Linked DNA regions of Homo sapiens: region 2 is linked to region 1. Evidence: fine-mapped expression QTL. Tissue or cell type: cerebellar hemisphere. Region 1 holds a variant in brackets; the other region holds the start of a gene. All regions are shown on one strand. Distances are between the middles of the regions.

Region 1 (8,082 bases):
TCATTTTTTGTTTGTTTGTTTTTAATGGGCCAGTAGTTTCATAAAATACTAGGAAAATAAGATGAAAAGGACATACAGCCAGCTTTTTAGAACTGAGAGACATAGAGTGACTGTCAGCTTGCTACTCAGTGCTCCCTCTCGCCCTGAATCAATGGGACGGCACCAGGCCAAGGCCCACAATGCCCAGAGCAAGCCTCTCGGGGCACAGATGGGGAAACTGAGGCCTTGGCAGTTTTGTGGCCTGTGTGGTCAGACTCTGCTTAGACCTATGGTGGCCTTGGCTTCAAGTAGACCTTCCAGAGCTGCTGTCCTCCTCCCTTCCCACTTGAGGACTGACCTTTGGCGTGTCTCTTTACAGGACTTCAATGACAGAAGAGTACAGGGTCCCAGACGGCATGGTGGGCCTGAGTGAGTGTGGGTCACCTTGGGTGGGGAGGCCCACTCTTCCCCAGGAGGAAGTGTCCTGTGAGCTCCTGCCAGCCCAGAAGCCCTGGTCTGAGAGGGCTCCTATGTGCTGTTCTCATTTGTCCCTCCTTCGTCCCCTCTGGGCAGAGGACAGGAGCTCTCTAGAGGACTGCTGCCCTCCTGAACGTCAGAGGGGCTGGGGCCCCGGCCACACAGTCTCCTGAGGCCTGGGCTCCCTTCCCTCATCACGCTTTGCTTTTCTCCTTCTTTCTCCATCCAGTCATTGGCAGAGGAGGTGAACAAATTAACAAAATCCAACAGGATTCAGGCTGCAAAGTACAGATTTCTCCAGGTATAAGAGCGTCAGGTTCCTGCCAGAGTGGGGGCCAGGGTTGGGCCCTTTGCACTTTCCTTTAATTACTTAATTTCCACGGGGACTGTGGACAGGAAGCGAGCTGGCGCTTGTTGGTGCTTACTACGGACCAGGCTCAGTGCAGTATCTCACTCCACTAGTACTGCCCACGGGGCACAGCTGTGACTTTTTTTATTTTCAGTGGGTGGGTATGGACTGAGGTGGCAGGGCTAGCATTTCGCACAGGGGCCTGGTTCCAGACACCGAGCTTCGACGCACTGCACTGACCTGCCGCGTGGGTGAAAGCACCCCGGCAAGACTGCGTGAGACAGGGTGGTGCCTTGGACAGAGGGGTCACTCTGAGGTCAGGCCCAGGAGCAAATCCCGGTTCTGGCTGCACATCTGCTCTCAGGCAATGTAGTTACCTTTCGAATCTCAGAGTCCTGAGCTACAGAAAGCCTGCTGGGTAGGGGGTTCTGAGGCTTCCTTGGGCGTGTAGCACGTGTTGTCTATAGAAGCGGCTCTGGTCATCATTGGTAGTGGGGGTGGCCGGCTCCTGGACCTTCTGGAATCTGCAACTCCCTCCACCTCATCCTTTTCCCTTAAAGTCCTACCTCCCTTCTGGGATCTCTTCCCAACCTTGGCCTTGCATCGAGCAGCCTCCCAGGTGTTTAGGGGAAGTAAACTGATCTGTCAGGCACTGAATGGGACAGAAGTGGCCCTTGGTTGTTCTGAAAGTTTCCTCGTGTCCAAGGCAGGCCTTTCTCTGCCTGTGGGCCAGGGAGGGCACTGACTCTATCTCCTCTTTTCAGACAGCGGTGGCCTACCCGAGCGCAGTGTGTCCTTGACAGGAGCCCCAGAATCTGTCCAGTAAGTCCCCACAGGGCCTCTCATTGTGATGTGGGGGGCAGGCAGAAGCCTGCTCTGTCCGTTTGAATTGAAAGTTGGGAGCAACTTGCACGCCATGTCCTCCATTCTTGCCCCCATCTCCAGACAGCCATGTTAACATGAGGCTGATTCCCCGGCAGCCCAAGACCTGGGGAACCTGGAGCCTGAACAGCCCCTGTGACTGGCCCCTCTTCCCTGTCATCCTTGCACACTCTGGGGTCGCCTTCCCTTTGAGCTGGGTGGGCCACCAGACCAGTACCTTTCTCCAGCGGTGGCACCCGCTCATCCCCCGCTCCTCCCCTTCCCAGGAAAGCCAAGATGATGCTGGATGACATTGTGTCTCGGGGTCGTGGGGGCCCCCCAGGACAGTTCCACGACAACGCCAACGGGGGCCAGAACGGCACCGTGCAGGAGATCATGATCCCCGCGGGCAAGGCCGGCCTGGTCATTGGCAAGGGCGGGGAGACCATTAAGCAGCTGCAGGTGAGGGCAGCACCTGGGCAGCTTCCTCTGCATCCGTGTGCCACACCCCACCGCCACCACCACAGCAGCCCAGGAAGTCCTGGGAGAGCCCAGCACTAACGGTTAACCTTGCTTGTAAAGGAACGCGCTGGAGTGAAGATGATCTTAATTCAGGACGGATCTCAGAATACGAATGTGGACAAACCTCTCCGCATCATTGGGGATCCTTACAAAGTGCAGGTGAGCACGCCCTGGGGTGGTGGAGGGGGTTCTGGAGAGGCACGGGCAGGTGGGCAGGGCCAGCGGTCTCGGGGTCTGCATTCCGCCAGAGAGATATGTGAACAGTCGGTCATAACACCAAGAGGCTTGCAAGAGCGCTGGCTCGTAGGATGGCCCTGAACTGACTCCCAGCTTTGTGTGTGTGAGGCACCGGCCTCACCTCTGACCTTCTGCTTTTTTATCTGGAAACGGGGCTGCTGGTAGTGCCTCCCCATTAAAGTGGCAGGTAGAGAGCTCAGTAGGGTGCTGTGCTGGGCTCACCCAGGGTTCGTGGGTCCTTAGTTGAGGCCCGCACCCCCGAGGAGGTGGGGGGGTGTGGGGCAGCAGGGCTCACCCATGGGGGCTGCTTCCTGTGTGTTTGCAGCAAGCCTGTGAGATGGTGATGGACATCCTCCGGGAACGTGACCAAGGCGGCTTTGGGGACCGGAATGAGTACGGATCTCGGATTGGCGGAGGCATCGATGTGAGTGTGGGCCCTGCCTTCACCCCCCTCTCCCCCGCCAGTGGAGGGAGGGGCCGGGGTGAGTGGCTCCTTGTGGCCAGTGGGCAGCAGAGGGCAGCAGAGCTGCGGGCCGAGCTGACGCTGCTGCCTCCCTCCCCAGGTGCCAGTGCCCAGGCATTCTGTTGGCGTGGTCATTGGCCGGAGTGGAGAGATGATCAAGAAGATCCAGAATGATGCTGGCGTGCGGATACAGTTCAAGCAAGGTCAGGGCCTGGCCCACCCTGCCCCTGGCCAGTGCACCCCCACCCTCTTTGGGAGGCAGGCTCTGAGGGAGCTGGGCACCGTGGTCAGCCAGGTGGCCTCCATAGCACCTCACGGCTCTTAGTCCAGCCGTCAGAACATGGCCAGTCCCTTCTCTTCTCTGGGACAGACACATGAGGGCTTTCCACATCCAGGGGGAACGTGTGTTCCTATCCCTATCAGATCTCCTCTTCCTCCCCCTACGATGGAGCCTATCCTGACAGGACAGCCCTGGGTGCCCCGCAGGCTGGATCAGGGCACTCCACCTCAGCTCTGGGCTCTTGCCAGTCCTCAGGCAGTCTCTGAGCTGCCTGCCGTGGGGAGAAGGGCCCCTCTGGCTTTTCAGAGATTTATTGTTCTGTAAAATCTCTCAGTGCTGGGGGTGCTGTGTGCTGGAAGAAGCTTGAGCCACCTCCTGGCTTGGCCGTGGGTTTCCTTCTCTGGGAATGTGGGCCGCCTCCCCCTCAATCCCTGAGCGAGTGGAGGCTGGGAGCGGCGCAGCGCGTCTGAGATCTCAGGCCGGCGTGGTGTCTGCGCTGGAGGCGGCGTTGCAGGGCTCTGGGGTGGGCTCTTCTTTTAAACTTGTGTCTCTGCTCTCTCGGTGCTGGCCTCAGATGACGGGACAGGGCCCGAGAAGATTGCTCATATAATGGGGCCCCCAGACAGGTGCGAGCACGCAGCCCGGATCATCAACGACCTCCTCCAGAGCCTCAGGGTAGGTGGCCCCGGGTGCTGAAGGGGCTGGCAGGGCCTCCAGGGGAGTGCAAGACCAGACCGGCTTCCAGGGTTCATCATCCTCCTCCTCCTCTTGTCTTGCAGAGTGGTCCCCCAGGTCCTCCAGGGGGTCCAGGCATGCCCCCGGGGGGCCGAGGCCGAGGAAGAGGCCAAGGCAATTGGGGTCCCCCTGGCGGGGAGATGACCTTCTCCATCCCCACTCACAAGTGTGGGCTGGTCATCGGCCGAGGTGAGTGTGGCCCCCTGCACCCTATCCCTTGCCCCCTCTTCCCTGGGCCATCACTGCAGGCCACCTTCACCTTCTGCGTTTCTGCAGGTGGCGAGAATGTGAAAGCCATAAACCAGCAGACGGGAGCCTTCGTAGAGATCTCCCGGCAGCTGCCACCCAACGGGGACCCCAACTTCAAGTTGTTCATCATCCGGGGTTCACCCCAGCAGATTGACCACGCCAAGCAGCTTATCGAGGAAAAGATCGAGGTGGGTTGGGGCGGGCTCTGGGGATTTGGTCTCACAGCCCGGATCCCAGCCCACTTA[C/AC]CTTGGTTACTCTCCTTCCTTCTAGGGTCCTCTCTGCCCAGTTGGACCAGGCCCAGGTGGCCCAGGCCCTGCTGGCCCAATGGGGCCCTTCAATCCTGGGCCCTTCAACCAGGGGCCACCCGGGGCTCCCCCACAGTGAGTATCCTCTGCCTCCTGGGTTTTGAGGCCGGGGGCTTACTGAGCTGGCAAGAAGAATAGCAGACCCCATTTCCCTTTCCCTAGAAGTGCAGGCGGGGGGCCTCATCCAGCCCATTTTTGTGGATACCATCAACAGGCCCTCTCCTGTCTACTGGTAGAGCATGTGCCTTTCAGCATCCCTCTGTGCACGTGCAAGTTTCGCGGCTTCTTTCATGTCCTCAAGCTGACGCTGCGCGTCCTTCGAGTTGCTTCTTGTCTAGGCCTTTCCCAGGCGCCCCGTTGAGCCTGGTGGTCTGGGTCTCTGGCGCCTCCCCACTGAAAAACATCCCCACCCCAGGTGGTCCGGCTGCGGCCACCCCCGCACCACTGCTCAAGCATCCCTTTCTTCTCTCCTGCAGTGCCGGGGGGCCCCCTCCTCACCAGTACCCACCCCAGGGCTGGGGCAATACCTACCCCCAGTGGCAGCCGCCTGCTCCTCATGACCCAAGTAAGTGATGGGCCACCTGGCGGAGGGCAGGCCCTGTTCTGTCCCCCCGTCTCACCCGAGGTATCTCCTGCAGGCAAAGCAGCTGCAGCGGCCGCGGACCCCAACGCCGCGTGGGCCGCCTACTACTCACACTACTACCAGCAGCCCCCGGGCCCCGTCCCCGGCCCCGCACCGGCCCCTGCGGCCCCACCGGCTCAGGGTGAGCCCCCTCAGCCCCCACCCACCGGCCAGTCGGACTACACTAAGGCCTGGGAAGAGTATTACAAAAAGATCGGTGAGTCTGCAGGGTGGCGGGGGGGCTCCAGCCCTGCCGGGGGAGTGGTTTCTGACCTGTCTCGGCGCCCGCACAGGCCAGCAGCCCCAGCAGCCCGGAGCACCCCCACAGCAGGACTACACGAAGGCTTGGGAGGAGTACTACAAGAAGCAAGGTGAGTGGCCACCATGCGGGGACAGGGGCAGGGGCAGCCCTCACCCACAGCCTCTCACCTGCCTTTGTCCACCCACAGCGCAAGTGGCCACCGGAGGGGGTCCAGGAGCTCCCCCAGGCTCCCAGCCAGACTACAGTGCCGCCTGGGCGGAATATTACAGACAGCAGGCCGCTTACTACGGACAGACCCCAGGTCCTGGCGGCCCCCAGCCGCCGCCCACGCAGCAGGGACAGCAGCAGGCAAGTGGGAATTGCCACCCTCCTCCTCCTCCTTTCTCCTTCCAACCCCCGGCCACCGTCCATCCTGCCTTAGTGGGTAGCGCCGGAAACCCCTTCCCCTGCGGGGTGTGCCCTTGATGCCTGCAGCGGGGGCCGTGTGGCCGGAGGTCTCCGGGAGTCCCCACGCACCGCCAGGGAAGCATTCGCTGGGTCCAGAGGTTAAACGAAGAGGCCTCCCTGCGCCGGCTGCTTGTTCCTGTGTGCCGCTGTCGTGATGCTGGGGAGCGCTGAGACTCGCAGGCGGGACTTCTGAACTGCTGGGGAGTCGGGGGGCAGGCAGACAGCGCGGACGGTGGGCACCGGCCCGGCCGCCACCACCTCGCTCACAATCTGGCCACTTGGGAAGAAAACGTCTATTTTTTCCCCTTCTCTGCATCACTTTTTTGGTTTTTGTTCTTTTTATTCTTTTATTTTTTAAACCCATGATCTTTTTTCCTGTGTCCAAGTGACTGTGTTGCAGGCGGCCTGGCTCTGGCAGGGACTGGTGGGGACGCGGGGAGCGGCCCAGGCCCCTGCCCCGCCGGGCTCAGCCTCCCATGCGCTCGCGCTTGCCTGTGTCCCGGGCTTGTCTGTGAAGTGGGCGTGAAGATCGTTGCCACCTTCCAACCTACCTCACAGGGGTGTTGTGGGGACACCATGATCTCTGGATTGTTCATGTCGTCGTGCTGCGCCGGGAGCCACCGCCCTCCGGAGACAGGGCAGCTCCCCTACGACCCTAGCGCCTCCGCCCTCCGCGGCCCCTCTCCTCTCTTCCTGCTCTGTCCCTCCTTCTCCATCAGGGAGCAGCGTGACTTCAGCGAGTCCCGCGAGCACCTGGCTAGACAGTTAACAAGCACGTCCTTCCAGCCTGAGCCAGCGCAGGTTTGGGAGGGGGCTTCCTGGCCCCCCCCACGGTGTTCCAGCCCCTCCTCTCTTCCGCCCCCTAGTCTCCCACCCTTCCCTCCCCGTAGTGACCAATTCCTATCTCTTCCCTCTCCGCAGGCTCAATGAATCGAATGAATGTGAACTTCTTCATCTGTGAAAAATCTTTTTTTTTTCCATTTTGTTCTGTTTGGGGGCTTCTGTTTTGTTTGGCGAGAGAGCGATGGCTGCCGTGGGGAGTACTGGGGAGCCCTCGCGGCAAGCAGGGTGGGGGGGACTTGGGGGCATGCCGGGCCCTCACTCTCTCGCCTGTTCTGTGTCTCACATGCTTTTTCTTTCAAAATTGGGATCCTTCCATGTTGAGCCAGCCAGAGAAGATAGCGAGATCTAAATCTCTGCCAAAAAAAAAAAAAAACTTAAAAATTAAAAACACAAAGAGCAAAGCAGAACTTATAAAATTATATATATATATATTAAAAAGTCTCTATTCTTCACCCCCCAGCCTTCCTGAACCTGCCTCTCTGAGGATAAAGCAATTCATTTTCTCCCACCCTCGGCCCTCTTGTTTTTAAAATAAACTTTTAAAAAGGAAAAAAAAAAGTCACTCTTGCTATTTCTTTTTTTTAGTTAGAGGTGGAACATTCCTTGGACCAGGTGTTGTATTGCAGGACCCCTTCCCCCAGCAGCCAAGCCCCCTCTTCTCTCCCTCCCGCCCTGGCTCAGCTCCCGCGGCCCCGCCCGTCCCCCCTCCCAGGACTGGTCTGTTGTCTTTTCATCTGTTCAAGAGGAGATTGAAACTGAAAACAAAATGAGAACAACAAAAAAAATTGTATGGCAGTTTTTACTTTTTATCGCTCGTTTTTAACTTCACAAATAAATGATAACAAAACCTCCCCGTCTGCGGGTGCTGTCTGTCTCCCCCCCTTTCCTTCCCTCCCTGTAGTTTTGAAGCGGATGTTTGTTCTTTATAGATGTTGTTTAAAAAGCCTGATAATGGTGATTGAAATTTACAAACTTTGTGTTTTTTTTTTTTTAAGAAAAATATAAAATAGTTTTCTTCAGGCTCAATGTGCTTTCCTAACCGTGCCCCCCCCCCTTTTTTTTTTTTGTTAAATAAAGTGCTTTTTGTTTAAAAAAGACTGCGTGCTGGCCGCAGTTGTGTTTGTGAGAGGAAACAAGTTGAGCAAGTCTCAGCCAATTAGAGTGGGGTGTGGCCCCCCAAGACTTTCCCCTTCCCATGTGGGAAGGGGAGGCTGGCTGAGCCCAGCACTGCTGTCTTCCCCTACCCAGTTTCCCTCCAGCACCTTGGGGAGCAAGGCGCTCAGGAGGGCCTCAGGGACCGGCGTTCCCATGGATGGGCTGTTGCTACAGGAGGTCCTCTGGCCTGTTAACGTTCAGAGCCCTGAGGTGGGAGCCAGGCCCGCGTCAGTGCTCGCTGGGTGATGGGACCGGATGTGAGGTGGGAGAGGGCACCGAGGGGCCACCCAAGCTGT
Region 2 (8,082 bases), 25 kb after region 1:
GTCTCTTGGCATACTCTTGCTGTAGGGTGGCATCTTAGGGGTATGGTTCTTTTTTTTTTTTTTTTTTTTTTTGAGGCAGAGTCTTGCTCTGTCGCCCAGGCTGGAGTGCAATGGCGCTATCTCGGCTCACTGCAAGCTCCGCCTCCCGGGTTCATGCCATTCTCCTGCCTCAGCCTCCTGAGTAGCTGGGACTACAGGCACCCGCCACCGCGCCCGGCTAATTTTCTTTGTGTTTTTAGCAGAGACGGGGTTTCACCATGTTAGCCAGGATGGTCTCGATCTCCTGACCTCATGATCTGCCCGCCTCGGCCTCCCAAAGTGCTGGGATTACAGGCGTGAGCCACCGCGCCCGGCCTCTTAGGGGTATGGTTCTGTTCTCAAGGGCATAGCCAGGCACGTTGTGTGTTTGTGCCGCTTTGGATGAAGATGTGAACTTGAGGCCAGGTGTGGTGGCTCACGCCTATAATCCCTGCACTTTGGGAGGCCGAGGCGGGTGGATCCCTTGATGTCAGGAGTTTGAGACCAGCCTGGCCAACAGGGTGAAACCCCATCACTACTAAAAATACAAAAAAAATTAGCTGGGTGTGGTGGTGCACACCTATTCGTGAGGCTGAAGCAGGAGAATCGCTTGAACCCAGGAGCCAAAGGTTGCAGTGAGCCGAGATTGTGCCACTGCACTCCAGACTGGGCAACAAAGCAAGACTCCATTTAAAAAAAAAAATGATGTGGCCAGGTGCGGTGGGCTCATGCCTAGCACTGTAATCCTAGCACTTTGGGAGGCCGAGGTGGGCAGATCACTTCAGGTCAGGAGATCGAGACCATCTTGGGTAACACGGTGAAAACCTGTCTCTATTAAAAATACAAAAAATTAGCTGGGCGTGGTGATGGGCACCTGTAGGCCTAGCTACTTGGGAGGCTGAGGAAGGAGAATGGCGTGAACCCGGGAGGCAGAGCTTGCAGTGAGCCGAGATCGTGCCACTGCACTCTAGCCTGGGCGACAGAGCGAGACTCCGTCTCAAAAAAATAAAATAAAAAAAAACAAAGACGTGAACTTGAGCAGGCCAGGCCCTTCACACACGGCATCTCCTTAAAGCATCCTGAGGACTCTATCATCCCATTTTACAGTGGAGGGAACCGAGGTTCAGTGAGAGGCAGGGACTTGCCCACGCTCCCAGTCTCATCCCATACTCCCCTTCTCTCTGTTCCAGCCCCATATCCTACTCCCCTTCCCTCTGTCCCAGCCCCAACCCATACTCCCCTTCTCTTTGTCCCAGCCCCAGGGGGCTTCAGTTCTTTGAATTTGAAACTCACTTCTCCCTTGCTGTTTCCTCTGCTTGGAAAATCCCTGCCTGCCCCAGTTCCTTCTGGCCACAACTTCCATCTGGCCTTCTCTAGCCTCCATCTAGAGCTTCCCCCCATCACTCCTTGTCTGAGACACCTATTTCCTCCACAGCAATGGCCACAGTCTGTCATGATCTTCTCTGTTTACTCGTTCTTTTTTTTTCCTTCTTTTCCTTCTTTTTTTTTTTTTTTTTTTTTTGAGACGGAGTTTCGCTCTTGTTGCCCAGACTGGAGGGCAATGGCGCGATCTCGGCTCACCACAACCTCTGCCTCCCAGGTTCAAGCGATTCTCCTGTCTCAGCCTCCCGAGTAGCTGGGATTACAGGCATGTGCTACCACGCCCGGCTAATCTTGTATTTTTAGTAGAGACGGGGTTTCTCCACGTTGGTCAGGCTGGTCTCGAACTCTCAACCTCAGGTGATCCGCCCGCCTCGGCCTCCCAAAGTGCTGGGATTACAGGCATGAGCCACCGTGCCCAGCCGTTTACTCGTTCTTGTCTCCCCCAAGCCAGACACTCCATGAGGGCAAGGACTATTTCTGCCTCCCTCATTCCTATATTCCTAGGGGTTGGCGGTTCCTGACATTTAGTGGTGGATGAGAAATAAATGAAAACAGACACATCGACGGTGTCTGTAGTTCATGGCCCAACTTTTGTGTCTTGCCCGCCTTCCCTTTGCTTAGCCAACTCCTATGCATCCCTCAGTGCCCAACTGAAACCTCCCCTCTTCTCTGAGCCCTCAGAGCCCCGCTGTGCTTCTCCTGCTCCTTCCTGGGTTGTAGATTCCCATGCTGTGACTCTGTCTCTTCCACGACACTGTAACCCTCGAGAGGACACTGTAATCCTCCGTGGGGAGCTGGTTTGACAGATTCACCTTGCGGGGCCCCGAACCCAGGAGGTGCTGGAGTATTTGCGAAGTGGAGCAATGAATGGTTGCGCCGTGAGCATGCGCAGTTGTGTTACTGCCATGATTCGGGGGATGTGTGCATGCCTGGAACGGGGTAGGGGATCCTGCATCTCCCTCCTGTTCTCGGCAGCTTCCTTCCCTTCCCCCCAGGAAGCCAGCCAGCCGCCCCCGCGACGTTACCCTTCTCCTGGGGCCTCAGAGCCCTGCCCATCTCGGGCAGCTTGGACTTGCAAAGACCCATCCGGCCAGCAGCTCTTGGGGTGGTCGCGCCCCGACCCCGCCCAGGCTCTGACCCCTCCTGGCTCGGCTCAACGTCACAAGGGTCCCCGCCCCGGTCATTTTGCGGGAATGACGGGGTCCACCCCTTCGGGGTAGGGGGAGGAAATGAACCCCAAACAGACCCATGGGGAGCCAAGCGGCGGTTCGACCCGACCCGAGTAGGCCTCGGTTGCTATGGTGACGCGGCCTTCTGGGCCCCCCAGGTCCAGAGCGGCAAGGCGCATGCGCAAAGTGCCTGGGAGCCCGCAAGGGGGATTCGTCTCCCTCTTCCCACCCAGGATGCCCCACGGTCCTTGGGTGCTGACGTCACGAGAGAGGGCGGTCCCCCATTTGATGAAGTTAACCGCGTTATATACAAGAGCGCCAGCGACAGAGGCCCGTTAGTTTATCTCAGACTCGGCCTAGGTTTGCTGAGTCTAAAAAGGGACCGCGGTGGACCTTTTGAGGTGACCATAGCCGCCGAGGAGCATAAGTGACTGCGCACTGAGGTGGCCACAGTCGCTAAGAAGGTTGCCATCGCGACGCGGCTGCTCGAGGGTTTCGCTTCCGGGTTAGGCGGCCGCAGAAGCGTAGACCGAGTAGCTTGAGCGCCTCTTCCGGTTACCTTTTCCCAGCGCCAGAGGCGCCTAGGGTTGGGGTCCTCGCTCAGGCACAGAGACCCGACACCGAGCGGCGGCTTCCCCGGGATCGAGGGACGCGCACGCCAGAGGAGACGAAAGGAACCCGGGTCGGACCAGATCGGAACCACTGACCATTGCCCATGGCGGCCCTAGTGAGTGTGGATTTGGCGGGGTTCGGGGGTTCCGACGGCGACCTCGGCGACCCCTCACTCACCGCTTCCTCTTTCCGCAGGGCCCTAGCAGCCAGAATGTCACTGAATACGTCGTTCGAGTTCCTAAGTAAGTCCCCAGCCCCATCTCCCACTCCTCTCCACCCCCCAAAAATGAAAACCTTCACGATCTTCTTAGCCAGCCATTTCTGGCCCTGTCTGTGGTTCTCCCTCCAGACCGGGAGAGACTTGGAGGGCAGGGCTGGGATTAAGCTGAGGCTTCTCTGGGGACAACACTGCTTTTTTGAACGAATGAATGAATGAGTGCATTAATACACGGTGATCCAGCCCCCTGGCCTAACCTTCGAGGAGTATATGGTCCCATGATGCCCAGGCCAGCTGTAAGGACATATTCCTCGTCCTGTTTCAAAGTGGTCAGGCTGTCTTTCCTTTCCAGGCCTTTGTACATCCTGTTCCTCTGCCATGAGTGCCTCCCCTCAACCCCTAAACTGTGACTCTGCTGGGTGAATTCTTGATGATTCTGCAAAACTCAACTCCAGTATCTTCCTCCTCCAGGAAATACTCCCTGCCTGTCCTCCCTCCTCCCCAAGGCTGAGTTCACAATAATCTCCACATCTTGGGTTCCCCCAAATCTTCGTCCCTCCATCTGCTCTTCTTCTGCCTGGGGTCAGGAGAGGATGGGTCTAGCTTCTCTGGCAGACTGGGAATCCTTGGAGTCTTCCGTATCCAGTGTTGCCAGGCAAAACAGGCTGAATGAAGCTGGGTGGGTTTGTTGAGTGAATTGAATTGAATTAATGATTCAATTGAATGGAATGATTGAATTGAATTAATGGTTCAATTGAATTGAGTGATTGAATTAAAGTAATGATTTGATTGAATTAACGATCCAGTTGGGTGGTTGATTGAATTAATGGTTCAATAGCATTGACTGATTAAATTAATGATTGAATTGCTGTATTGGATTGACACTACCTCTTCTCATCCACTCCAGGAATACAACCAAAAAATATAACATCATGGCTTTTAATGCAGCCGACAAAGTCAACTTTGCTACGTGGAATCAGGTAAGTCTCTGAGTCCTGGGGGTCAGGGGCTGGGGTGGTGAGAGAACTTGACCCTGACCTTGGTGGTTGTGATAGTTGCTTAACTGTCATAGTCACTAAGTCTTAATTTTCTCACTTTTCTCCAAGTGAAGAAAAGATAGATGACAAAGGGTTGGGTGCAGTAGTTCACACCTGTAATCCCAGCACTTTGGGAGGCTGAGGCAGGAAGCTTGCTTAAGGCCAGGAGTTTGAGACCAGCCTGGGCAATACAATAGCAAGACCCCAACTCTACAAAAAAATTAAAAAGTTAGTTGGGGCTGATAGCGTGGGTCTGTAGTCCTACATAGGAGGCTGAGGTAGGAGGATCGCTTGAGCCCAGGGGTTCAAGGCTGCAGTGAGCTATGATTGTACGACTGCACTCCAGCCTGGATAACAGAGCAAGACCCTGCCTCAAAAAAAAAAAAAAAAAAAAAAAAAAAAAAACGGAAATGGCAAAGGCCCAGGCCTAGCTCCTGGGTGTCCCTGTAAGTTAGGTTTGGTAGGCCCACCAGAGGCCTCTCCTTAAAGGAGAACATTTAGAAGCTGTGCCCACTGTTGGACATTTTTGGCCATGGTTTATCTGGGCAAGGGAGGGGACTGGGCTGGGGGCTTTCCCAGAGCCCCTGCCATCAGAGGCTCTAGAAAGGACTTTGGGAGCCATTAAAGCATCTTCAATTGGGAAGTTGTAGTGTGTGTGATCTGGCTGCTATGGGGAGACAAACTGTGGGTTTGAGGGCAAATAAACGGAGACCAAGGTAGAAGCAACTGGACTGGTCTAGGTGAGTCCTGGCAGGGCACTGGAGGCAGTGGAGGTTATGAGATGTGGCTGATTCTAGAGTGTTTTGGAAATGGTATATATGGACCTTAAATCAAGAGCTTAAGGGTAATTCGGATCACATTAGCCATGTAGGTCACGATAAATTGTTAATTTGTAGAGATTTTGGTGCCTTAATGTCAGCAAGTGTTGCACAATGAGTTTCTTTTTATTTATTTTATTTTATTTTTTTGTGATGGAGTCTCTTGTCATCCAGGCTGGAGTGCAGTGGCGCGACCTGGGCTCACTGCAACCTCCACCTCCCAGGTTCAAGCCATTCTCCTGCCTCAGCCTCCCAAGTAGCTGGGATTACAGGCGCCCACCACCACGCCTAGCTAATTTTTGTATTTTTAGTAGAGACGAAGTTTCGCCATGTTGGTCAGGCTGGTCTTGAACTCCTGACCTCAAGTGATCCACCCGCCTCAGCCTTCCACCATGCCCAGCCTTTTTATTTTTAGGAAATAGATATAGGATCTCACTATGTTGCCCAGGCTGGTCTTTTTTTTTTTTTTTTTTTTTTTTGGGGACTGAGTCTTGCTTTGTCGCCCAGACTGGAGTGCAGCGCCAGGATCTCGGCTCACTGCAAGCTCCGCCTCCCGGGTTCACGCCATTCTCCTGCCTCAGCCTCCCAAGTAGCTGGGATTATAGGCGCCTGCCATCATGCCCGGCTTATTTTTTGTATTTTTAGTAGAGACGGGGTTTCACCGTGTTAGCCAGGATGGTCTCAATCTCCTGACCTCGTGATCCACCTGCCTTGGCCTCCCGAAGTGCTGGGATTACAGGCGTGAGCCACCGCGCCTGGCCTTTTTTTTCTTAAGACAGAGTGTCACTCTATCACCCAGGCTGGAGTGCAGTGGCATGATCTCGGCTCACTGCAACCTCCGCCTCCCAGGTTCAAGCCATTCTGATGCCAGGCTGGTCTTAAACTCCTGAGCTCAAGTGATCCTTCTGCCTTGGCCTCCCAAAGTTCTGGGATTACAGGTGTGAGCCACAGCACAATGAGTTTCGATATGCATGCATTCTGGAGAGATGTGTGGAAATTCTAGGTACTTAGACATTTTTTGAAAAGAATCCTGGAACCAGATGCCTGCTGTAGATAATAGGGAAGTCTAATTAATTACTTCTACATTCCTCAGATAAGGAATTTTGCCTCCGATGGCCTGCTTGATGGTCACCAGGTGGTCTTTTTCTCTTTAATTTTAATTTGGAAATAATTTCAAGCTTTTAAGTTGCAAAAATAGAGCGCAAGGCTCGCCCAAATTCCCTTTACCCAGATTTGTCAAAGGCTACCGTTCTCCTCCCTTGTTGCCAAGTGGTAAGTTGGTTTTGAGAATCTAGAGCTTGGCCTAGGGCAAGGAAGGGCGTTCCTGGAGGGGGGCACTGCGCAAGCAAAGCCAGGGACCCTGAGAGGCTTTGCTTCCTGCTCCCCTAGGCTCGGCTGGAGCGGGACTTGAGCAACAAGAAAATCTACCAAGAGGAGGAGATGCCCGAATCGGGCGCGGGCAGTGAGTTCAACCGCAAGCTTCGGGAGGAGGCTCGGAGGAAGAAGTACGGCATCGTCCTCAAGGAGTTCCGGCCCGAGGACCAGCCCTGGCTGCTCCGGGTCAACGGCAAATCAGGCAGGAAGTAAGTGGTGGGGCGGTGGCGGTGCCGGCTTAGTGACCAGTCCACATCCCCAGGCCTCAACTTACATACTTTGTGGGGTACCCTCTCTGAACCTCAGATTCCCACTGCTGCAGTGGAAGTGCTGGCACTTCCATCCCTGTAGGATTTTATTATTTATTTATTTATTTATTTATTTATGTTATCTTATTTTACTTACTTGTATTTTTTTGAGACAGAGTCTTGCTCTGTCGCCCAGGCTGGAGTGCAGTAGCACGATCTTGGCTCACTGCAACCCACACCTCCCAGGTTCAAGTTATTCTCCTGCCTGAGCCTCCTGAGTAGCTGGGATTACAGGTGCCTGCCACCACCACGCCCAGCTAATTTTTGTATTTTTAGTAGAGACAGGGTTTCACCATATTGGTCAGGCTGGTCTCGAACTTGGCGATCCTCCCGCCTCGGCCTCCCGTAGTGCTGGGATTACAGGCGTGAGCCACCGTGCCCAGCCTACTTATTTATTTTGAGACAGGGTCTCACTCCGTTGCCCAGGCTGGAGTGCAGTGGTGCGATCGTAGCTCACTGCAGGCTCCAACTCCTGGGCTCGAGATCTTCCCACCTCAGCATCCTGAGTAGCTGGGACTATAGGCACGCCCCACCATGCCTGGCTAATTTTTGTATTTTTGGTAGAGATGGGGTCTTGCTGCGTTGCTCAAGCTGGTCTTGAACTCCTGGGGTCAAGTGATCCTCCTACCTTGGTCTCCCAAAGTGCTGGGATTATAGGTATGAGCCACTGCCCAGGCCCTGGGGTTGTGTTTTTGAAGACAGTTCACTGAGTTGGTGCTTGTGCCTGGCTCTGAGGCAGCTCTGAGTGCCACAATGCAGGAAGCTTAGGTGGCCAGCCCTGGGAGCTCATGACACTTGAGATGACCTCTCAGAGGGGGCAGACTGAGGGCAGAACAGGAGGGGTCCAGGTTAGGTTGATGAAGGGTGCTCCAGGCACAGCAGTTGGGTGATAGTGACAGACACAGGCAGCTCACACAGGGCAGTGGGTGCCAGGATGTGCTGGGTCCAGCGGAGCCTTGGAAAGCTGTAGGCAGGGAAGAGGCACTCACCCAGACTGTCCGGAACTTTGGGGTAGAAAAGAATGAGGTAGAGGCCTCAAGGAGGCTGGGCAGTTGTTTAGGCTTGAGGAAATGGTGGCCCGGGCCAGGTGTCCACTTCAGATTTGGCCATGCCATGGCTGGGCGCGGTGGCTCACGCCTGTAATCC

Evidence for each region. PIP is the estimated chance that this variant, and not a neighbour inherited with it, causes the effect.
Region 2: it holds the start of GTF2F1, and the variant in region 1 is fine-mapped to the expression of GTF2F1 in cerebellar hemisphere (GTEx, PIP 0.97).

The regions. Positions count from the first base shown.
Region 1 is chr19:6,412,748-6,420,829 of GRCh38, reverse strand. It overlaps KHSRP (KH-type splicing regulatory protein), which reads left to right. Exons shown (of 19, transcript NM_001366299.1): 5 at 359-408; 6 at 686-757; 7 at 1,570-1,627; 8 at 1,954-2,128; 9 at 2,249-2,347; 10 at 2,751-2,849; 11 at 2,989-3,091; 12 at 3,743-3,843; 13 at 3,948-4,092; 14 at 4,180-4,340; 15 at 4,423-4,532; 16 at 4,934-5,022; 17 at 5,096-5,296; 18 at 5,373-5,450; 1 more. The coding sequence ends at 5,806. MIR3940 (microRNA 3940) reads left to right here and starts at 4,319; the gene lies at 4,319-4,420. RefSeq lists an enhancer at 7,484-8,082. The variant C/AC (reference allele first, on the strand shown) is at 4,398.
Region 2 is chr19:6,388,199-6,396,280 of GRCh38, reverse strand. It overlaps GTF2F1 (general transcription factor IIF subunit 1), which reads left to right and starts at 3,117. Exons shown (of 13, transcript NM_002096.3): 1 at 3,117-3,297; 2 at 3,378-3,424; 3 at 4,307-4,379; 4 at 6,644-6,837. The coding sequence starts at 3,286. It overlaps MIR6885 (microRNA 6885), which reads left to right and starts at 6,578; the gene lies at 6,578-6,643. It overlaps MIR6790 (microRNA 6790), which reads left to right and starts at 3,298; the gene lies at 3,298-3,360. It also overlaps the pseudogene LOC390877.